Homo sapiens: one gene and its partners. The protein of the gene in region 1 binds, or shares a complex with, the protein of each later gene. Each region holds a gene or a part of one and is shown on either strand. Other genes may lie near its edges.

Evidence for each region.
Region 2: STX18 (region 1) and STX5 share a complex: the UniProt entries of both Homo sapiens proteins name them as parts of the SNARE complex.
Region 3: STX18 (region 1) and BNIP1 share a complex: the UniProt entries of both Homo sapiens proteins name them as parts of the SNARE complex.

What each region holds. Positions count from the first base shown.
Region 1 is NC_000004.12:4,455,039-4,462,062, reverse strand, and holds part of STX18 (syntaxin-18), read left to right. Parts: intron 1-90; exon of another isoform or gene 91-157; intron 158-2,575; coding exon 2,576-2,691; intron 2,692-4,562; coding exon 4,563-4,640; intron 4,641-4,805; coding exon 4,806-4,872; intron 4,873-7,024. UniProt on the Homo sapiens protein: Syntaxin that may be involved in targeting and fusion of Golgi-derived retrograde transport vesicles with the ER.
Region 2 is NC_000011.10:62,829,052-62,836,645, forward strand, and holds the start of STX5 (syntaxin-5), read right to left. Parts: upstream 3,001-7,594; 5' UTR 2,903-3,000; intron 2,605-2,902; exon of another isoform or gene 2,400-2,604; intron 2,212-2,399; 5' UTR 2,193-2,211; coding exon 1,968-2,192; intron 1-1,967. Other genes in the region: TEX54 (testis-expressed protein 54), read right to left, coding at 3,325-3,699; WDR74 (WD repeat-containing protein 74), read right to left, coding at 3,901-4,080, 4,567-4,623, 4,741-4,886, 5,225-5,280, 5,376-5,476, 6,380-6,481, 6,644-6,790, 6,868-6,985. UniProt on the Homo sapiens protein: Mediates endoplasmic reticulum to Golgi transport.
Region 3 is NC_000005.10:173,147,507-173,154,530, reverse strand, and holds part of BNIP1 (vesicle transport protein SEC20), read right to left. Parts: intron 2,966-7,024; coding exon of another isoform or gene 2,837-2,965; intron 210-2,836; coding exon 118-209; intron 1-117. UniProt on the Homo sapiens protein: As part of a SNARE complex may be involved in endoplasmic reticulum membranes fusion and be required for the maintenance of endoplasmic reticulum organization. Also plays a role in apoptosis.

The DNA.
Region 1 (7,024 bases):
CAGGCGGGTGGCCTTGTTGATACTCTGCTCTTGAATTAGACACACTCAGGCATTAGTGCCACTGCGCAGCCGCAGCCCCTGGAGCACAGACAGCAGGGACAGGCCCCTTTGCAACATAGGAGAGAGAGGAACAGAGCGGAACCTCTGCTGTCTCTAAGTAGGTAAAAGAGAGGAGAGAAAGGTGTGGTGACTATATGCACACCCCATGCTTTCTGCGAGGGGGCCAGAGGGAGGAGGCTCTGGGAGGAGGCAAGGTGTCATTTGGGGAAGTTGGTTCCCACAGAAACATGAGGATTAGGGAATAAGCATTCCCCCCGGTAGCCCAGGTTCTGTCCAGGTGGAGAAAGACCACCCTTATTGTCTCTCATCAAGTTCTCCCTCCCAAAGGTGGTAGACTGCTTAAAGCCTTTCTTTTTTACTCTTCTGCCCTCCCAGTGCAATGTGCTAGCCTTGGCCTGCTCCTAGGAACATTTTATGTGGAGTATGATCATGGAATTGAAAGAATATGTGTAGAAATACTGCCTTCAGACCTATGAGGCTTTGTTAGTTTGACATAATTAGGAAGCTGTAATTTTTTCCAGAATGTAGAGCTCAGACTTTATTGACCCATTTAATTTTTTTTTAATAATGACATTTTACTAGAGCAGAACAGCATGTAACCTAGATAGCCTGTGGCTAGATCTCTGAATGATTTTAATTAAAAATAATGTCTCCACTTCTGGTAGATGGACTTTTTCCACAATATCCTGGCAACAAAACAATCTGGGAGAAAAAACTTCCTTGGTTTCTGTTGTTCTTACTAATAGAATAACCATACTGTCAATTTTCAATTTAGAAGGTTAATGTATATATATAATGTTTCCTAAAGGAACATTACCTTTTAATTAAATAATCAGTTTTATCAAATTAACCTTTAGACCTTTTCAATTTCACTGAGCTGAGTTTCCATTAAATCAAAATATAGAGTAGGAGGATGTTAATCGAATGTTCTTGGAACTAGTCATTTCTAGGTCTGTTCTGTCTGCAGGGTACATATTCACTGAGTTGGTACCTTTCTGACTCATTTGTCCCTGACCCCGTTAGCCTCTATTTCCGATGAGAAGGTTCCTAGTAGGGATGAACCTAAGGCTTTGGCCCCTCTGCTTGCCACTCTGGCTCCTCCCCAGAGGGGAGCCATTCATCTGGTGTTGGAGGTGGGCTGGGGTTGGGGAGAGGGGATCGAGCTTGCTGGCTTAGCGCCTTTGTCTCACTGTTGGGTCTTCCCTCGGACAGAGTCCATTCTCTCATGGTTGCCATCCCAAGCCTAAGTAACTAATAGAACAAGATCCTAAGGAGCATTGGAATAAGGAACTAATTCCATGTCACTCTTCAAGTTCCACTGAGAGAGGATCATCTATTCCCTAGGAGGCTGGAGGCTGTGGGATTTCTTTTTCCAACTCTTCCTTAGAAAATATGGAAGTGGGGTAGGGGCCGTGGGATAGGGGTGACTCCAAGGGAGGAGAGGATGCTTATCTGGTGATTGGGAGTGAGAAGGACTTCGTGCTCATCTTACCCCTTTCTTTTTTAGAAGGGCCTGTCCTCAGGATGGATGTATTCCCTGTTTGTTTGTGCCTTAAGTTTCCTAGAGAAGGCTTTGGGAGGGGGATGCCTACCTGTCTTGGGGTGGGGGGAAAAATCGGTTTAGGAGGAACTTACTAGGGAGCACAGTCGTAGCTGTGTATCAAGCATATTCTCCAACTCAGGCTCATTCATTGGTTCAGTTCATTCAAAAGTATTTATTACTGATTTATTAATTGATCAGCCTATTAAAAATGCTAGGCATTGCTCTTGATGATGGGGATACAGCAGTGAACAAACAGAAGTCCTTGCCTTTGTGGAACTTACGTTTTTAGAGGGGAGAGACAGGCAAGAAAAGAAATAATTACACAAAATATATGGAATGTTAGAGTGGGGTAAGTATCTTTACGGGGAAGGAAGAAGGGAAGTGGGATAGAAAATGTCAGGGAGGGGACAGTTTATAAAGAAGGATTAGGGAAGGCCTCATTAAGAGGGCAACATGGAGTAAACACCTAAAAGAAGTAAGGGATGCATTGATGCAGCTATCTGGGGAAAGAACATTCCAGAAGGAGGAGACAACCAACACATGTAAAGGTCCTGAGGTGGGAGTGTGCCTGGAATGTTTAGGGAACACCCTCCACCCTCTGATTCAGTCATTTTGTAGTGTGAGACCCTTCAGTAGCTGCGCCATTGTTCTCAAAAGCAGAGCCTACATTCTTTATAAGCCTGGCTTATGCTGTAGCCCTGACTCCACGCTCCTTCTCCCTCTCCCTCTCCCCATCTGGCTTACGTCAGTTGGGTCTATTCCGGAGGATTTTCTACCACACACCCTTCATATGTGTTCTACTATCTATCTAGATGGTTCTCTCACCTTTTCACCTGGCCTGTTCCTCCTCACCCTTCAAGTCTCAGCTTAAATGTCACCTGATCAGGGAGGCCTTTTCTTCTCTTCCCATCCCACTCAGACTATATTATGTTCTCATTTGCTGCTGCCCTTTCCTTTGCTGTCTTTTTTTAGCCATACCATGTCTGAATATGGGAGGATGACAGACACAGAACGAGACCAGATAGACCAGGATGCCCAGATATTCATGAGGACCTGTTCAGAAGCAATTCAGCAACTACGAACAGAAGGTAAAGTGCTCTGAAAGATGCAAACAAGCAACCATGAATATAGCAAGTAGTTAAACAAGATGCATATGGTGCGGCCAGTTAAAATTCCCTCTTCTTATTTCGATTTAGGTTTTAAAACGTTAAAATCTTTTCTTTCTTGATCAATGTTTTAACCAAAGCTGTTAAAAGTACTGCAAAGGCTGTATCATTCAAGTTAAACCAATGAGAGGAGGGAGATGGAAAGGACCTCTCCAAACAGAACCAAAAATATATCTAGGGGCCAGGGGCAGTGAAGACAAATTTGTGTGTGTGTGTGTGTGTGTGTGTGTGCGTGTGTGTGTGTTCTGTGTGGCAAATTGTATGTGTGTGGGTGTGTATGTGTGTATGCACATGTGTGCCTCTGTTCTGTGTGGCATTTAGTGGGATGGGAGTTGACAGCAGCCTGGGGTACTTAAGCTCTACTTGTAATATTCAAGTAAACTTTCCTATCAAACCTTCAAGGTTAGGAGGAAGGCTCTGGAGCCAGGGCTGCTTAGGTTGCACCCCAACTCCACCCGTCCGAGCCATATAGCCCTCTGCAAATCACTTAATCTCCCTGGGCCTTGTTTTTTTGTCTATGAAATGCAGACAATTAGGGAATGTATCTCTAGGGTTGTTATGAGCATTAAGTTAAATTCCTACAGCATGCTTAGAACTGTGTCTGGCACAAGAGCGCTTATTATCTCACTTTCGTTGATGTTTAATTCTCACTGAGACAATGAGATGGCTTCCCAAGTCACGCCTCTTTCTTGATTCTTTTTTAATTTGCTTAGGCATTTACAGAGTACATTAAATAGTAAGTAGAGTTCAAAGCTGCCAGATGCTGTTGTGCTCACAACACAGACTTTTGTTGGGGAGGTTTTTATTAGAATGCTGACGGACCACTTGGAGACTCTGATGGAAGCAATAGGCATTCTTGCCAGAAAAATGTACATACACAAAATTCTATATGCAATTTCACAGAGCTCCTGAGTCCCCCACACAAATCTTGGGTTAAGCAGCCCTATAGTAAGGCAGAAATCATGCCCTCTACCCTTAAGGGCATATACATTCATTGAGAGACCTAAAAAATGCACAGGAATATTTAACAAAACCTACATTTACATATGAAACCATCTAACCTTGGGCTATTTATTGCCTCTGAACCTTAGTTTCTTCACGTGTAAAAATCAGGAAACTCGGAATTGCTATTGTAATTACTAGCAGTACATATGTAAAGTGCTAGCAGAGTACCTGCACGCAGTAGGCACTCAGTCTCTCAGTCAGTGGTCACTATCTTACCAAAACCAGTGGCACAGACTTTAGGTCTGGTAAGGCCTTTTAGCACACTTCTGTGTGGTAGTTCCCAGGAGAAAGGCATCTTTGTGGCTAGGAGTCATAGGTTTCCTGGAGACAGAAAGTTTGACTCATTGTCTAAGGGACCCTTAGAATGTGAGTGGCCAAGGGGAGAGGATGGGGCACTACAGGCTGAAAAGCAGCACAGGTTCAAGCAGGGAGGAGTGTGTGATTTCAGTTGTTTAAACATGTTCGCTGAAGGTCAGCTTGAGCATTGGATGCTGTTAACACAGATGGGGTCAGCACTCAAGAAGTGGCTGCGTCAAATACTATCCTTAAGTGTTCTGATAAACCATAAATTATTTGACTATAGATTTTCTACAGGTTTAATCTTTCACTCTTGCGAAGCCTGATACATCTTACTGTTTTAAAAATGTAGTGTCACTTGGCACAAGACTTGTTTTATAGCTGTGTTTTAAAAAATACTCTCAATAAAGAAAGTGTTGTGAGGAAGCTGATGAATTGCTCTTTAGGATAATTGAGTGCGAAGGCCTGAACATTGTCTTTTTCTGTTACAGCTCACAAGGAGATACATTCCCAGCAAGTGAAGGAGCACAGGACCGCTGTTTTGGATTTCATTGAAGATTACTTGAAAAGTATTTCATTTTCTTTTAAAGGTCAAATGTAACATTTCACAATAGATGTGATGCAGAATTTAGCTTTGCTAGCTGAAGACTGTAGTATCTCATTATATTTAATGATGGCTTTGCCTGAGAAGCTGTTTTAAGCAGTCTCTCTTCTGGTATTTTCTTCTGCAACAGGAGTATGTAAACTTTACTCAGAACAGAGAGCCATCCGAGTTAAAAGAGTGGTGGATAAGAAAAGATTGTAAGTATTGCTTTCATTGGTGTTTCTTAATTAATAATAGTACTACTAATAATAGCAGTTAAAGTTTGTAGAGCACTTACCCTATGCAATGTACCGTGTTTGAACTTCTTCGCAAAATGCCATAGCTGGCGCTACCGGGCACTCACTGTGTGCCAGGCAGCATGCCAGCCACTTTATTGGCCCACAACAAACCCCCATGAGGCAGGTACTGTTTCCTCCCTCATTTTACAAATGAGGAAGTTGAGGCTCAGGAGGCTTGGCCACTCACCCTAGATCCCACAGTCCCACAGGTAGCATAGCTGGGGTTTGAGCCTAGGCTGTTGGTCCAAAATCTGTGCTCTTGCCCATTTTGTCTCTTAACCCGATGAGGCTGGCACATCTTGAGCCATTTTACCTCAATCTCTTTGACCCCCATACCCCTTCTTGTCGTCCCTGAAAGTGTATTCCTGAGAGAAGAGCGAGGGCACAACAAGCAGGCCACCACAAGGCTGTCCTCAGGTCACCTGTGACAGACTTGCTCGATGCCACATGCTCTGAGTGCACACCTCCCTCCAACCCCACTACCTGTCCCATGCAGGCACTATTAGGAGCCCTGTCAGCAGGTAAGGACGCTGACGCTCCAGCAGGGTAAATGACTCATCCAAGGCCACAGGAAGCAGGAGGGCCAGGCTCCTGTATTTTCCATGGCGCCTGCCTGGTTTCCCCTCTGGGCTCACATGAGCATCTGGAATGCAAGAGCTGTGTCCTCACAGTCGTTCCCGCTGCAACTCAGCCAGTCTTGGAGATGGAATACATCAGTGAGCAAGTATCCAAACCTGGACCATTTCTAGACTAGCTTTAGAAAGGTTTTAGGATGTTCTTTCAGAAGATAACATCACATAACTGTTTGGGGACACATTTTCTTTTTTGTTTTTTTTTGTTTTTTTTGTTTTTGAGACAGGGTCTCACCCTGTCTCCCAGGATGGAGTGCAGTGGCACGACCTCCTGGGCTCAAACAATCCTCCCACTTTAGCCTTCCGAGTAGCTGGGATTACAGGCATGTGCTACCATGTCTGCCTATTTTTTAATTTTATTTTATAAGGGTGGGATGTCACTATGTTGCCCAGGCTGCTGTCAAACTCCTGGGCTCAGGCAATCCCCCTGCCTCCCAAAGTGCTGGACTACAGGCGTGAGCCACCATGTCTGGCCCACATTTTTTAAATTCTTACTGTGTCAGGGGTCCCCAGCACTACTCTCTGGTTCTAGGATTCACTAAGAGGTCTCATGGGACTCAACATACAGTCCTGCTCCTGGCTATGATTTGTCACACTGAAAGGATACGAAGCAAAACAGCAAAGGAAAAGGCATGTGGGACAAAAGTCCAGAGGAAACCAGGCATGAGCTTCTAAGAGTACTCTCCCAGTGGAGTCACACAGCATGTGACCTATGACAACACGTGAAGTGTTGTCTACCAGGGAAGCTCATTAGTAACTCATTGCCCAAGGATTCTGTTAGGGGCTGGTCACATAGGCACCTCACACCTGGCATCTACCGAAACTCTAGACTCCCAGGAGGAAAGCAGGTGCTCAGCACTGAACTGCATTCAAACCGCATGTTTTGCAAAACAGTTCAGGCACGGCGAGCTGTTTTTATCAATTAGGATGGCATGAACTCTGCCAAAGTCCAACTTCTCAGATGCCAGGCAAGGGTTAACCTTGCAAGCAGGCCTTTCTAAGGATAGCAGCCTCAGGCCTACTACATGAACCCTTTTCTGCACATTTGTGAAACAGATGTGAAATTGTTAATGCCAACAAATAGAAGCATTTGTGGAAGATAGTAAGCAGATCAGTCAAGTTATCTGTCAGCAACAGCTACTATTATATAATGCACTGAGAGGGTAGCTTGAGAGAAGCCATAGATTAAGTCTTTGTGCTTAGAGAGCTTAGAAGCAGGCTGGGTTGCTATTAAACATGAAAAATTAGTCAGCTTAATCAGGATATGTCATAATTAGTGAAATCGGTAGTAAGCTCAGAGGGGGAAATGGTACGATCAAGTGGCATAGTATAATGCCTAAGAGCCAGACTCTGCAACCAGACAGCCTGTGTTTGAATCCTGGCTCTGCCACTTTCAAACTGTGTGACTTTGAGCAGGTTGCTTAACTTTTCTGGGCTTT
Region 2 (7,594 bases), on another chromosome or scaffold:
ACTGTCTCAAAAACAAACAAACAAACAAACAAACAAACAAACACAAACTGCTTACTCGGGTCCCACTGGGATTGTTGAAAAAAACACTCCCGGCTGGGTACGGTGGCTCACGCTTGCAATCCCAGCACTTTGGAAGGCTGAGGCGGGCAGAGCACCTGAGGTCGGGAGTTTGAGACCAGCCTGACCAATATGGAGAAACCCCGTCTCCACTCAAAATACAAAATTAGCCAGGCATGGTGGCGCATGTCTGTAATCCCAGCTACTTGGGAGGCTGAGGCAGGAGAATCACTGGAACCCGGGAGGCGGAGGTTGCAGTGAGCTAAGATCGTGCCACTGCACTACAGCCTGGGCAACAAGAGCGAAATTCCCATCTCAAAAATAAATAAATAAATAAATAAATAAATAGCACTCCCAAATTTTTTTTAAGAGGAGCTGAGTGCAGTGGCTGACACCTGTAATCCCAGCACTTTGAGAAGATAAAGCAGACGGATCACTTGAGCCCAGAAGTTCGAGACCAGCCTGGGCAACATGGTAAAACCCCATCTCTACTAACAAAACAGAAATTAGCCAGATGTGGTGGCACATGCCTATAATCCCAGCTACTGAGGAGCCTGAGGCAGGAGGGTTGCTTGAGCCCAGGAGGTCAGATGTTGCAGTGAGATGAGATAGAACCATTGTACTCCAGCCTTGGTGACAGAGTGAGACCATGTTTCCAAAAAAGGAGAGAGAGAGGCCAGGTGTGGTGACTCATACCTGTAATCCCAGCACTTTGGGAGGCTGAGGAGGGCAGATCACCTCAGGTCAGGAGTTCAAAGCCAGCCTGACATGGTGAAACCCCATCTCTACTAAAAAAAAATACAAAAATTAGCCGGGCGTGGTGACGGGCACCTGTAATCCCAGCTACTCGAGAGGCTAAGGCAGGAGAATCGCTTGAACCCAGGAAGAGGAGGTTGCAGTGAGCCGAGATTGCACCATTGCACCCCAGTCTGGGCGACAAGGCAAAATTCCTTCTCAAAAAAAAAAAAAAAAAAAAAAGAGAGAGAGGAAGAGACTGGGCCTCGCTCAGCCTTCTAAGTAGCTGGGACTACAGGCACATGCCACCACGTCCAGCTTTTTTTTTTTTTTTTCCTGTAGAAACAGGGTCTTGCTTTGTTGCTCCTGCTGGTCTCTAACTCCTGGCCTCAAGTCATCCTCTGGCCTAGGCCTCCCAAAGTGCTGGAATTACAGGTATGAGCCACCACATCCAACCCTAAGTGATTTTGATACAAATTACTGATCTAGGGCCAGGTGTGGTGTCCAGACCAACCTGGGCAACATAGTGAGACACTGCCTGTACGAAAAAATTTTAAAATTAGCTGAGTGGTGCATCCATGTAGTCCCAGCTGCTCAGGAGGCTGAGGAAAGAGGATCCCTTGAGTCTAGGAGTTCAAGACTGCAAGTGAGCTATCATCACACCACTACACTCCAGCCTGTTGACAGAGTTGAAAAACAGATCTCAAAACAAAACAAAAACAACAAATTACTTATCTAGAAAATGTCCTTAATCTTACAGAGATAAAAACTAATATGTAACTAGATTAACTAATTTTCTCATGGTTACAGAGCAAACTTATGGTAGAAGTATATTGGAAAATTCAAGGTGCATGTTTCTCAGCTAAAGGCTCTTCCTAGAACTTGTTCCTTATTCACACCAATTATATTGCAGCCAAGTACTCTCTGAAGTACTCCCTCCAGAATAGCAATCCTGCCCTCCAAAGGATTCCTCACAAAAAAAAGTCTAAGTCCTTGCCCCTAGTTAGCCAGCCGACCTCTTCTCTGTTGCTTATAGCAGACCCTACAGGCCCCATCCAAGCCTATCAGTTCCATCAGGTACCCCCCAAAATTACTTCGGTTAACAGTGGTGGAGCACAGTCCTTCCTAGATTTGAGTAAGGCTCACTCCTCGCCTTTTCCACTCCAGGTCCTTACCTGACGGGTCTGCAGCGACTTGCAGGCAGACAGAAACTCCTGGGTCCGATCCCGGCAGGACATGGTGTCGGGAGGGGGAGGGACGAGGGTCACTGGGGGGGGCAGAGGGGCGATGTCGCTGCTGCTACTGCCAGCAGTTGCAGGGGACAGGACCTGTGTCTTTGAGAGACCCAGGTAGACACCCTGATCCGTGTTCTTAGACCCGTAGCGTTTCCGCGGGATCATTGAGACGCATAACCTCGGACTGTTGTGGAGGGGAGAGTGTCATTCCCCAGGCAACTTCTTTACCCAAACTCCCCCGCCCCACCCCAATCAACAAATCCCCGAGCCCCTTCTGCACTTCTCGTGGACTTTCGCGCCCAGGACGCTCGCAAATCCTGGGGCGGACCAGCAGCGGAAAGGGCCCCGCTTTTCCCCTGTCCCAAGTCGAACCCGCTTCAGACTCTTCTTCCAACTTGGCTCTGGCGGCCAGAGCGCGGGCCGGGGACCCTGAAGCAGAGACAGGGCCAGAGCCAACCCCGTGGTCCTGAGACTCCGGCCCGGCCCGTGTAACTGCCCCGGGCCCTAACCCAGCCCTTTCGTTTCCGCGGTTTCCTTCGGCCCCTCCGGGAGGGCCAGTGACGGACCTCCAAAGACTGACACACTTCGGTGGGCGGAGGGGGAAAACCTCTGGGTGTTTATTTGAAACAGGAAGTCCCACCCCCCGCCCAAGGTCCGCCTTCTGGAAGACTTCAACCACTCATTAGCTAAGGCCGACGTCTCTCTCAACAGAGGCTTTCCTGATTGGACGGCAAGGAATTCGCTCACCCGGAGCCGGGCCGGCAGGACTTGCCCGCTCGCCCCTGATTCCCTTCCCCCCGCCAGTCGTCGCCCCCGTAAAACCACTGCCCCAGAGCTGACACGGCGGCCAGATCCCCTCTTAAAGCGAATCTTACCTCCCCTCTGCCGCCTGCCGCCGCCGCCACTTCCAATCTCACCGGCCGTCACTGCCTCCTCCCCGAGCACTGAAGCCGCCGAAACCCGACCAAAGACTGGAAGCGGCCACGTCACCTACACGTAACCCCACCCCCAGTGACGAGGGGGCGGTCCCACGCGTTTCAAGCCCAGCGACCCGAAAGACACGCCCCACACCCAAACGCAAGAGCGATCCCGCCCTCCCATTGGCTAAGGCGCCACCGTGACCCCGCCCCAGAGTACTACAGCAGGCGCTCAGGGGGCTGGGCCCGCCTCCGGGAAGGAGCCTTAAAGAACCAGCTGCCCGGTGGTGTCCGCGCCCAGTCCCCCAGAGTGGTCGTGCAGGTATACGTTAGAAATTTTATTCTCTGGAGGTTGGGGCGGACTGAGAGCAGGTCTGGGGTCATCCCTTCTCCGGCTCCTCCTGGTTGCCTTCTCGGATCGGACTCTCCTGCTTCCGAATCTGGTCTGGTTGCCTCTTGCTTGGCCGCGAGGAGCCCCGACGACCGAACGTGGATAGTCGCCGCCACAGCACGGTAATCAGAAGGCTTTCGTTCGACTTGTGATTCGGATGGTCCGGGGAGTTCAAGTCGATATCTTCGGCGCCTGAGGGGACGACGAGGCCTCTGAGCTCACCCCTACCCTCGGGAAGCCCCCTCTCACACTCCCTGGGCCCTCTTTGTGTGTCTGTGGTCTCATCTTCCCTGCCGTCCTCAGACTCTTCCTCCTTGGACTGCTCATCAGACATCTCAAAGTCCTTGTCTTGGCAGCAGCCCATGGCCCCGCGTGGCCCTGGACTCCGTGCCACCCACGCCAGCCTGCCTGCCTCCAGGCCCGGCTTTTGTGACATCAGATATCCCGTCGCCCCAGCTCAGGCAGCCCCCACCCCAAGCTACCCCTCATTCCTTTCTCCCATCACAAAAGGCTCAGGGTCATGGTGGGTGTTCAGCAGTTTATTTACAAAGTGGGCACAGGGGCGTCAGGGGCTGGTGGACCCAGGCCGCTTCTTCTTTCTCCGTCTCGTTTGGAGAGCTCCTTGGGGCTGCTCCAAACCCGAGAGCTTCCGCTTGGCAGCTGCCTCCAAGGATGCCCAAAGTTCATCTGTCTCTGTGTCTTCTAGGGGCACCTTGTTGGGTTCTTGAGGCTCTTGGGGCTCATCCTGGTGAGTGGGAAGAAAGCTTAGGAGTCAGGGGGGCCGGGCACGGTGGCTCCCACCTGTAATCTCAGCACTTTGGGAGACCAAGGCAGGAGGATTGCTTGAGCCCAGGACTTAGCGACCAGACTGGGCAACATAAGGAGACCCCATCTCCACAAAAAGAAGTTTAAAAAAAAAAAAAAAAAAAAAAAAAAAGAAAAGTAGTCAGGGGCACAGGGACAAACCCACAGGGAAGGAGACCCTGGCTGAGAAAGAATCCCTCTGGGTACCACCACCTTTATTCCCTGCTCCTAGAAAGCAACCCCATCCATGCTGTTGGCAATAACCCTCTCAGGATTTTAACTGTTAATGCCTCTCAGAGAAATTAAGTGACCAGGCAGGTAAACAGATAGTCCCAAGTCTGCATTCCAGCTGCCTCCTTTTCCTCTCCATAGGGAGGTCCTCACATCTATGCCCTTGGCTCCCACATTCCCGGGCCCAACTGCTCACCTCCCAGTTGTCCCTGCCTGACAAGAGGAGGCAGTTCAATTGAGACTTGAGATAAACCTGCAAAAGATGAGGGACCTTAAGGAGCCAGGCATGCTGAGACAGAAACATGAACGGAGGGCACAGGAGGCGGGGCCTCCACAAGACCATGAGTTGGAGGTGGGAGAGACAACTTACCTTATGCTCCAGACCCCGTGGATTCTGGATCCTGTGTATCCTCAAGACTCTGTCCAAGCCACAGGAGGCTAGTAGAGGCTTTGAAGGGTGGCACTGCAACCCACGCACACTGCCTGCCAGCCCCTTCAGACAGCCCAGTAGACGCCCTAGAGAAGGGGGGAAGCATCCGTGATAACTGGCTGGCCAATAACCAACCATTCATTGTTTCCTGTTCCAATCACTTTCCATTTCAACATTTAATCTGCAACAAAACCCTGAGACTGGAGCTTCTACTAATATTTCCATTTCGCAGGTGAGGAAACTAAGGCACAGGGAGTTGAAATAATTAGTTTAAGGTCATACAGCTTTTAGGGAAACCAGGATTTAAACCCAGGCAATCTGGCACCTGAATGAGGCCTCACTGGCCCCACTGCACCACCTTAGAGGGAATCCTGACCCTTCTCCCTGCTCCTTCCTTTCCCCCAATGTACCCTAGTCCACTCACCTTGCCGAAGGTCAATTTCTGCCAGCTGCCCATGAGTGTTTCCCACAATCACTGAGCTGAGGATGAGACCAGAGGCAAGTGGGATCAGCAGTAACCTCCTGGAGCCCTTCTCAAGCCCCACCCTCCCACCCCTTCCCCTCTAAACACTCACTTGCCTCCCGGAGTGAGGGTCATGGCTGTTAGTGGGTACTCTCCATAGGTGGTCTCTAGGACTGGCCGGCGCTGGGGGGATGCTGGATCATAAACACGGACCTAGAGGAAGGCTGAAGCATCACAAAAGTATCCTCACCCTGCACCTACCCTCTGGCGTCTCTGCATCCTCACCCCCTCCCTGCACACTGCTTTCTTATTTATGATCCACTCCCAGAAACTTTCTCATCTTAGATGTATGCCTCTTCTCTGAGCATCAGGGTGTCAGGAGAGCTGCTTAGCAGCATAAATGGACAGAGCTGAGGGGAGAGGTCCCCTAGGTTGGAAGTGTGTGAGCATTCCATCCCCCCATACTCCCATCTAGGGGAAATGGAGGGACAGAAAAGCAAGTTGGTCTAGTAGTCAGTAGGTGCTAAATTTCAAGCAGGGGTTAGCCTGAATGAAGGAGGAAAGAGGATGCCCTCATATGTGTTTTGAGCAGAGGCATATGACCAAGATCAGACTTCAATGTGCAGAAGCAAAGAAAATAGGACAAATACAGTGACCCAGCCCCGCCCGTGTCTCAAGACCTCAAATGAGACAAACCATAAAGATTCCCCATTCGGGCCCTTCCTGTAAAGCTGAGGAGCTGAGGCCAGAGATGGGAGGCTCAGGCCTGGGTCCCAAAGCAAATCAGAGAGGCTGCATCAGGACCAGAACCCAGTTCTCTTAACACCCAGCCCAATGTCCTCTGACACCTGCACCCTATAATTCCCACAGTGAAGGGGATCCACTCTCCTTTCCTCTCTTCCAGGTGGGAGGAAAACAGGCATAGTTCAGGAAACTCCACCCTAGAATACAGTAGAGGAAGGTCATGGGCTCAGGGACAGGGTTGGAACAGACGGGGAAGCGCTTGCTCCTCTGAACTCAGAATGGTGAGAAGAGCAGTTGTGTCAAACCGTGGGGGCCATTTCTCCAGGAGGCTGCTTTATCCCAGGAGAAGGCAGGTGTGAGGTGACACCTTACCTGGTGGTACCCTGTGCAGGTGACAAGCTTCTGTGATCCTGGGAGAAACTGTATGTCCTGGTCCCAGATGGGAACCCGCAAGTCCAGCCAGTCATTCCGCACCTGGTGGGGTGGGCAGATGGAGGACAGGGCTATGGGGGGCTCGATGTGCCCCTGTTTTCAGCCCTCCTTCGCCCCCTAAGTCCATCTAGTCTCTAATGCATCGTCAGTGGCCTCAGCCTCCCTCGACTTCAGGAACAGCTCCTTCACACTCTTGTCACTCACGTTCTTGGCCCTGAACACAGGTTCCTCAGAGCCCTGCAGGTCCCATATCTTCAAAGCATTCTCTTTCCCACCTGTGGCAACCACATGGGGGTGTGCTGGGTCTTGGCGCATCCTACACACCCCAGGGCCCACTCTCAGTTCCAGGAGCTGTAAAGAATAGGAGATAAGAGTCCGTTCCAGAGTCCTTAATCCTCCCTTCCCCAGCGTGATCATTAGGCACCTACCCCAGCCCACCTCCCCCAACCATCAGGGCAGGGGAGCCTCACTGGGTCAGAGGATGTGTCCTTGTCCTTGTCATGCCAGACTCTGAGAATCCCAGAATCCACACATGTGATGAGGGTGCTGCAGAGAAAGGATAGAGTTGGGATTTTTTAAGTGCTTAAACTCCTTGTTCTAATCTTTCTCTCCTCCTTACTACTACAGTTGACTAATGTTTAAAGAAAAAAAAAAGTATAAAAGTATTCTCTAGGCCCCAAACTCATATCAACCAGATTCCCTACTAACAGTCCAGTTTAGAAGGAAGCCTCTAGGTCACTGGGCTCTAGGCAGGGCTTGACAGCTTCCAGCTTCCTAATCTGTTAATTCAACTTTCTCAACAGGGTGAGGGTTTACCAAGTGAGGAAATAGAAGCGCTGAGAAACTAATTTGCCACTCAGCTATGTTACAACCACAGCTAGAAATCAACTCTGTGATATTCCAGAGTGCTTTTGCTGTTCACAGCTATGTCTAGCATCTGGCTGTACTGGTCTGTCTGAATCTTGAGTTGCTTACTAGGGCTGGTCTGAATTTAGGGCTTGGTCAAAGTCAAACACCAACTTCTTGGGTTCCTTGCTCTGAGTTTCAGGCACTAAATGTCAGTCTCTTGCTTAAAATATCCCTCCCGAGAAGTCCAAGCAAGTCTCTCCCCAGGATCTGCACAGCCTGCGCCTATGTTCTTTCTCACACCTGCCA
Region 3 (7,024 bases), on another chromosome or scaffold:
AAAAAAGACACCATTAAGTCAGCATTAAAGCAGATCCATCAGGCAAACACACGTGCAAGGCTCACAGGCAACAAGAAGAGCCAGCAGAAGCCGCTGGCGGGGGCAGGCCCTGCCTACCTGAGCATCTGCTTTTTGTGATTCTCCACTTCCTGGAGTAGAAGTTGTTTCTCTGATTCTTTGTCTTGCTCTTTAGCCAACTGCTCCAGGTCCTTTGAGGAAAAATAATTCCATGTTAAAATGATTTCAAAAGTCAACATGAAAGCAGAAGAGCATTTCTATTTCTGCCAAGGGCATACAATAGCACTTGAAGCACCCTTTTAAAACAGAACACCTAGGAATGCTAGGTAACATATAACACACATCCTTTTAAATCTATAGCTAAGTCCACAAGGAAGTAAGGAAAACCCCTATGGCCCAAAAGTGGGAAGGGAACAAGAGCTGGAATAGTCAGCCTGGGAGTGATGCACGGCTGTCCTGGCGTCAGAGCTGCTGCTCCTGTCACCTAGGGCAGGCCCGAAAGGAAAAGAAAAACAATGACGAAATACAAGCACACTGATCCCCCACTTAGATATCATTAAAATATCAAACTGCTGTTCATTTCCAGATACTCACAATTTCTGTGCCTATTTAATTAAAGACGAGTAATAGGCAGTTTGAGCGCTTGAAGGTTTGAGAGCTCGTGCAGGGACAGAAAAATGAAGCCCTGAGCCATCTGAGGCTGAGGTTGAGAAGCTGAACTGAGATCACCACAAATCTAAAACCCACGAAAGGTTACAGACACAGGAAAATGGTATAAAAAAATGTCCATCTACCAGCACAGAGGGAAAACATAGATGCTTGCCTTTTTTTGCTATGAGTTCCAAATAGAGGGGTTAAAAAAAAACTCCCCTGAGAATTTATAACCAACCAGGGAGCTGCTCCTTCCACTGATCTAGGGTTCAATTTATCTTCCCTGAGTGGTTCGTGAAACTCCATGAAGAGAAATGAACATAAACAGTGTTCTCGGCCGGGCGCAGTGGCTCACGCCTGTAATCCCAGCACTTTGGGAGGCCGAGGCGGGGAGATCACGAGGTCAGGAGATCGAGACCATCCTGGCTAACATGGTGAAACCCCATCTCAACTGAAAATACAAAAAATTAGCCGGGCGTGGTGGCGGGCACCTGTAGTCCCAGCTACTCAGGAGGCTGAGGCAGGAGAATGGCGTGAACCCGGGAGGCAGAGCTTGCAGCAAGCCAAGACTGCGCCACTGCACTCCAGCCTGGGCGACAGAGAGAGACTGTCTCAAAAAAAAAAAAAATGTTGTCAGACTTGTGATCATCTCAGGAGACCTGGCGGGAAGCTAATGCAAAAACCTCTGTAGAGACTTGGCCTCGACCCAGCTGCACAAAGTCCCTCAGATAAGGTCTGCTAAGATGAGCGCTCACAGTCCAAAATAACCTAACACCAAGGAAATAACCCACTATAAGTTAGGGTCAGCAGACATACCCAGAAGTATTAAACCCCAAGAACTTCAGATAAAAGAACCATCAAGAGGGACTATAATTAAAGATAGCATTATACCAATCACATTTTTTGGTTTACAAATTAAAACAGGTTCTAGCTTCAATCACGCTATTGATCTGAAACATCAATGTATTTGCTCATTTATATACTAATTTACTGATTTACGTATCAATTTGCACATACTGGTTTGGAACAAGTTTGTGTATCCACCATTTCAATAGCACAGAGATGACTTTCAATTTATGCCTCCAAATATTGCTGAGGTAGAGAATAAAAGAAATAATCAACTGTGAATTAGAAAAGTTTTGCAAATGTCATCAATTATTTTCATAATTATTTGTTTAAAATCTGTATTCCCTATTAGAATGTAAATTCTATGGGCTGGGCCTGGTGGTTCACGCCTATAATTCCAGCACCTTGGGAGGCCAGGGCAGGCAGATTACGAGGTCAGGAGATCAAGACCATCCTGGCTAACACGGTGAAACCCCGTCTCCACTAAAAATACAAAAAATTAGCCAGGCGTGGTGGCGGGCGCCTGTAATCCCAGGTACTCGGGAGGCTGAGGCAGGAGAATGGCGTGAACCCGGGAAGTGGAGATTGCAGTGAGCCGAGATCGTGCCACTGCACTCCAGCCTGGGCAACAGAGTGAGACTCCGTCTCAAAAAAAAAAAAAAGAATGTAAATTCTATGAATAAGCAGAGCTGTATCTCACATTATTCACTACATATATTCCTTGTGCCTGGCACATACTGGGCACTGAGTCACTGAATGGAAGAATGAACGCATGGGAAAAGCGGAGGGATTAAAAAGGGGGAGAAATGTACAATTTACTCATGAAAGATTGCCTGGAAGTTCTTTCAAAGAGAACCAGTGATAGTTCTGGAGAAAGGAATGGCGGGGGAGAGCAGTCCTCAAATTCCAGTTTGAGAGCTATATGTACAAAGACAAACACACAGATATTTATACACAGTCAGTGCCCAAGATTCACCATGTGCAGAACACCCAGTTTTGAGGATATGAGGCCAGTTCTCTAGTATCACATGATCTTGTTGGAAATACACAAAAAAGACATTCAAATAAAAGCTAAAAATGGCAAACAAACAGGAATCTTGTATTTATTTCCAGATACAAAAAGAGTATGTAAATACTTAAGAAACGCAGATTAAAACTGGGATGGGGTTATTCATTTACTGGCCATGTGCTTATTAGGTCCTTCCTAGGTGCCATAATAAATATGTAAATGTACACGTATTGGTGAGGTCATTTTAATGAGTGAAGGAAATAAACACTGGGTGGGCACCCAGATGTTTAAAAAGAACATACAAATACTCACACTGAAGGTAACAGGTGTAGTTGGAGAGTTGAAGTCATGCTGAGTTGAAGAAAAGTCTGTCAGGGAATAAGTTAGCTTAAAAAAAAATGTGGAAGCAGTCCAAATAAATGCCCTTTGATAGAGAACTGGCTAAAAAAAAAAAAAAAAATGACAGTTATTTAGAAAAGAATGAGAGACCAGGTGTGGTGGCTCCTGCCTGTAATCCCAACACTTTGGAAGGCTGAGGCAGGCAATCACTTGAGTCCAGGAGTTCAAGTCCAGCCTGAGCAACATGGCAAAACCCTGTCTCTATAAAAACTACAAAAATTTGCTGGGTGTGGTGGCGCACGCCTGTAGTCCCAACTATTTGGGGGACTGAGGCAGGAGGAAAATCGCTTGAGCCTGGGAAATCAAGGCTGTGGTGAGCTGAGATTGTGCCACTGCACTCTGGCCTGGGTGACAGCCCAAGACCCTGTCTCAAAAAAAGAAAAAAAAAGAAAAATGAGGACAGTCTCTGATTACTGAAATGGAAAAATTTCCAATATACGTATAATAAAATTATACTTAACAGTATAAGTTTTGACCGGGCGCGGTGGCTCACGCCTGTAATCCCAGCACTTTGGGAGGCTGAGGCAGGCTGATCACAAAGTCAGGAGATCGAGACCAGCCTGGCTAACACGGTGAAACTCCGTCTGTACTAAAAATACGAAAAATTAGCTGTGTGTGGTGGCACACACCTGTAATCCCAGCTACTTGGGAGGCTGAGGCAGGAGAATCGCTTGAACCCAGGAGGTGGAGGTTGCAGTGAGCAGAGATCACACCTGCACTCCAGCCTGGGAAACAGAGCCAGACTCCGTCTTAAAAAAAAACAAAAAAACAAAAGTATAAAGTTTTTAAAAGCTGTGTGTTAGTATGCTACTTTTTAGATGAGAAACAAGGAAGAAATTTTAAAAAAAAAGAAATTTGTCTTTTTAAATATTTGAGTAGAGAAACTCTGGAATGACATATCAGTAACAAAAGTGGTTACCTGTTTGGAAGAGTGGAACAAAAAACAAAACTGGGGCATAACTGAGACTTTTCACTGAATGTTGATACTTATAGACAGACACATACATAAAACATGTAAAAGGAACATCTTTTCAAAAATAAAAAATTAAGATGATTAAATCAGTACTGGAGATGAAGGCAGGAAGAGATCAGCTAGGTATGGTGACGCTGCTGAAAATCATATAGTTAACTCCAATAGCAAAAATTACACATTTTCAAAATTGCCCTTGAAAATCTCTGAGGTAGGCAAACACAGGACACAGACATACTGTTTCTCAGGGGTCCAACTGGCCAGCTTTTCTACCAGCTTTAGAACAGACTGTCTTCCTCTGTTAAGCAACAACAGAGTTGCTGGTGGGCTTTGGGGGCCATGTTATATGAAAAGCACAAGTCTTTTTTTTTTTTTTTTTTGAGACAGGGTCTTGCTCCGTCACCCAGGCTGGAGTGCAGTGGCACAATCTTGGCTCAATGCAACCTCCAACTCCCAGGTTCAAGCAATTCTCATGCCTCAGCCACCCAAACAGCTGGGATTACAGGCACGGGTCACCATACCCAGCTAATTTTTATACTTTTAGTAGAGATGGAGGTTGACCATGTTGACTAGGCTGGTCTTGAACTCCTGGCCTCAGGCGATCCACTCGCCTTGGCCTCCCAAAGTGCTGGGATTACAGGCGTGAGCCACTGTGCTGGCCAAAAAAGCTCAAGTCTTTAGACCTGATATAGTCTGAATATTTGTCCCTGCCCAAATCTCATGTTGAATGGTAATCCCCAGTGTTGGAGGTGGGGCCTGGTGGGAGGTGTTTGGATCATGGGGGTGGATCCCTAATGAATGGCATAAGTCATCCCCTTAGTGGTAAGTGAGCTCTCACTCAATCTCTCTCTTGCTCCTGCTTTTGTCATGTGACATGCCTGCTCCCTTTGCCTTCTGCCATGACTGGAAGCTTCCTGAAGCCTCCCCAGAAGCAGATACTGCTATGCTTCCCATACAGCCTGCAGAACCTTAAGCCAATTAAACCCATTTTTTTAAATAAATTACCCAGCCTCAGGTATTTCTTTACAGCAATGCAAGAAAGGCCTAATACAAAACCCCAATACCACAAGACCAGGTGCCACAAGACCCATCCAGGGATGGTGATATGGTTTGGCTGTGTCCCCACCCAAATCTCATCTTGAATTGTAACTCTCACAATATGTCATGGGAGGTACCTGGTGGGAGATGATTGAATTACAGAGGTGGGTCTTTCCTGCACTTTTCTCATGATAGTGAATGAGTCTCATGAGATCTGATGGTTTTAAAAACAGGAGTTTCCCTGCACAAGCTCTCTCTTTGCCTGCTGCCATCCATATAAGACGTGACTTGCTCCTCTTTGCCTTCTGCCATGATTGTGAGGCCTCCCCAGCCATGTCAGAAGTCCATTAAACTTCTTTTTCTTCCCAGTCTCACGTATGTCTTTATCAGCTGCATGAAAACAGACTAATACAGATGGGCAGATCCATGACACCCACCTCACCCTCACTGAAGGTACAGCAGGGGAAACATCTCCACTATTCAAACTGCTACTTCTAAGAGACCTCCAGAAGTCTAGAGGAGCAGGCATGTTTCCACACTCAGGTACCTCCTGACTCTCCTAGGTCCCACTAGGGCAGAGTAAGTGCTAGTTCTCTGCCAACCCAACATTAGGTCCTGTGGCTGCAGTGAGAAGAATTCCAGGAGAAAACTCAGGAATAAAAATGGAGAACGTAAGACATCAGACTGAAATTACTAGAAACCCTCAGGAAATAAAGAAGGAAGAAGAAACCAAGAAACCAGAAAAACCATCAGAACAGTAATCAACCCTTGGAGTGACCAGGAGATCCAGAGTTCCCTAAAAGAATGCAATTATCTCAAATTTGAATAACTGAAGAAGAATCATGAACAATATAAAGCAACTGCCTAGTGCTTCAAGTAGAGGGGCATGAAGAGGAGCCGGCAGGAATGTCTCCAGATAATGACAAGTTTGCAGGACTTTTACTGAACTACTCATGAGGCTAAACAGAGGCCAAGGAGCCAACCCTGTTCCTGTCCTCAGGGAGAGGGCCTACACAGGATTCCAGGATACAGATGGACAGCATCTTTTTAAGTGTGCAGATGCAGTCATCCTTCCAACTCCTGAGTTCCAGCCCTGGGCCTGTGCCATCCCTATTCACTTTGAGGGGCTGCTGTGGGCCCCTCTACCCATGAGCTGCATGCAGGATCCTTGGATGCCCAGATGGCAGCCTTGAAACATGACCCCTCCATAGTCAGCTCCATACGTGTTTCCTCTCAGCAGCCCCCAGACCCACAAGTGGTCTTCATCCTCTGATTCTGATCTAGATTCTGAACTTGGAAACAATTAGAAGCTGAATCCCAATTCTGTCTGAAAGCAACACAATAGTCTGGGCTCATGCCTGTAACCCCAGCACTTTCAGAGGCTGAGGCAGGAGGATTGCTTGAGCCCAGGAGTTTAAGACCAGCTCAAGCAACATAGAGCAAAAAATCCATCTCTATTAAAATATATATATATATATATATATATATATATATATATATATATATATATATATATTTTTTTTTTTTTTTTTTTTTTGACACAGAGTCTTGCTCTGTCACCAAGGCTAGAGTGCAGTGGCACGATCTCTGCTCACTGCAACCTGCACCTCCTGGGTTCAAGCGATTCTCCTGCCTCAGCCTCCTAAGTAGCTGAGATTACAGGTGTGTGCCACCATGCCCAGCTAATTTTTGCATTTATCAGAGACAGGGTTTTGCCATGTTGGCCAGGCTGTTCTCAAACTACTGGCCTCATTTTCATTTTTAAAAATGAAAGCAACAGAATAACATGATCTATACAGTGGTGCACAACTCTTTGCCCAGCCCAATGTAATAAGAATAAAATGTGAAATAAATAAAACAAACAAACATAACTGCTACTTGTCACCCTCTAGTGTTTTTTGAGACAGCACATATACCATACTTGAATTCAGGCATACTAAATGTGTATATGATGTGACTGGTGACTATTGAAATAAGGAAGATGCTGAGCAAAGTAACAGCATAAAAAAAAACCCAGGAGTGTGATGGATTGAGGTAGTGAATGAATGAATAGGGTAGAAAGAATGGCAGAGAAGAGAAAGTATTTGAAGTGG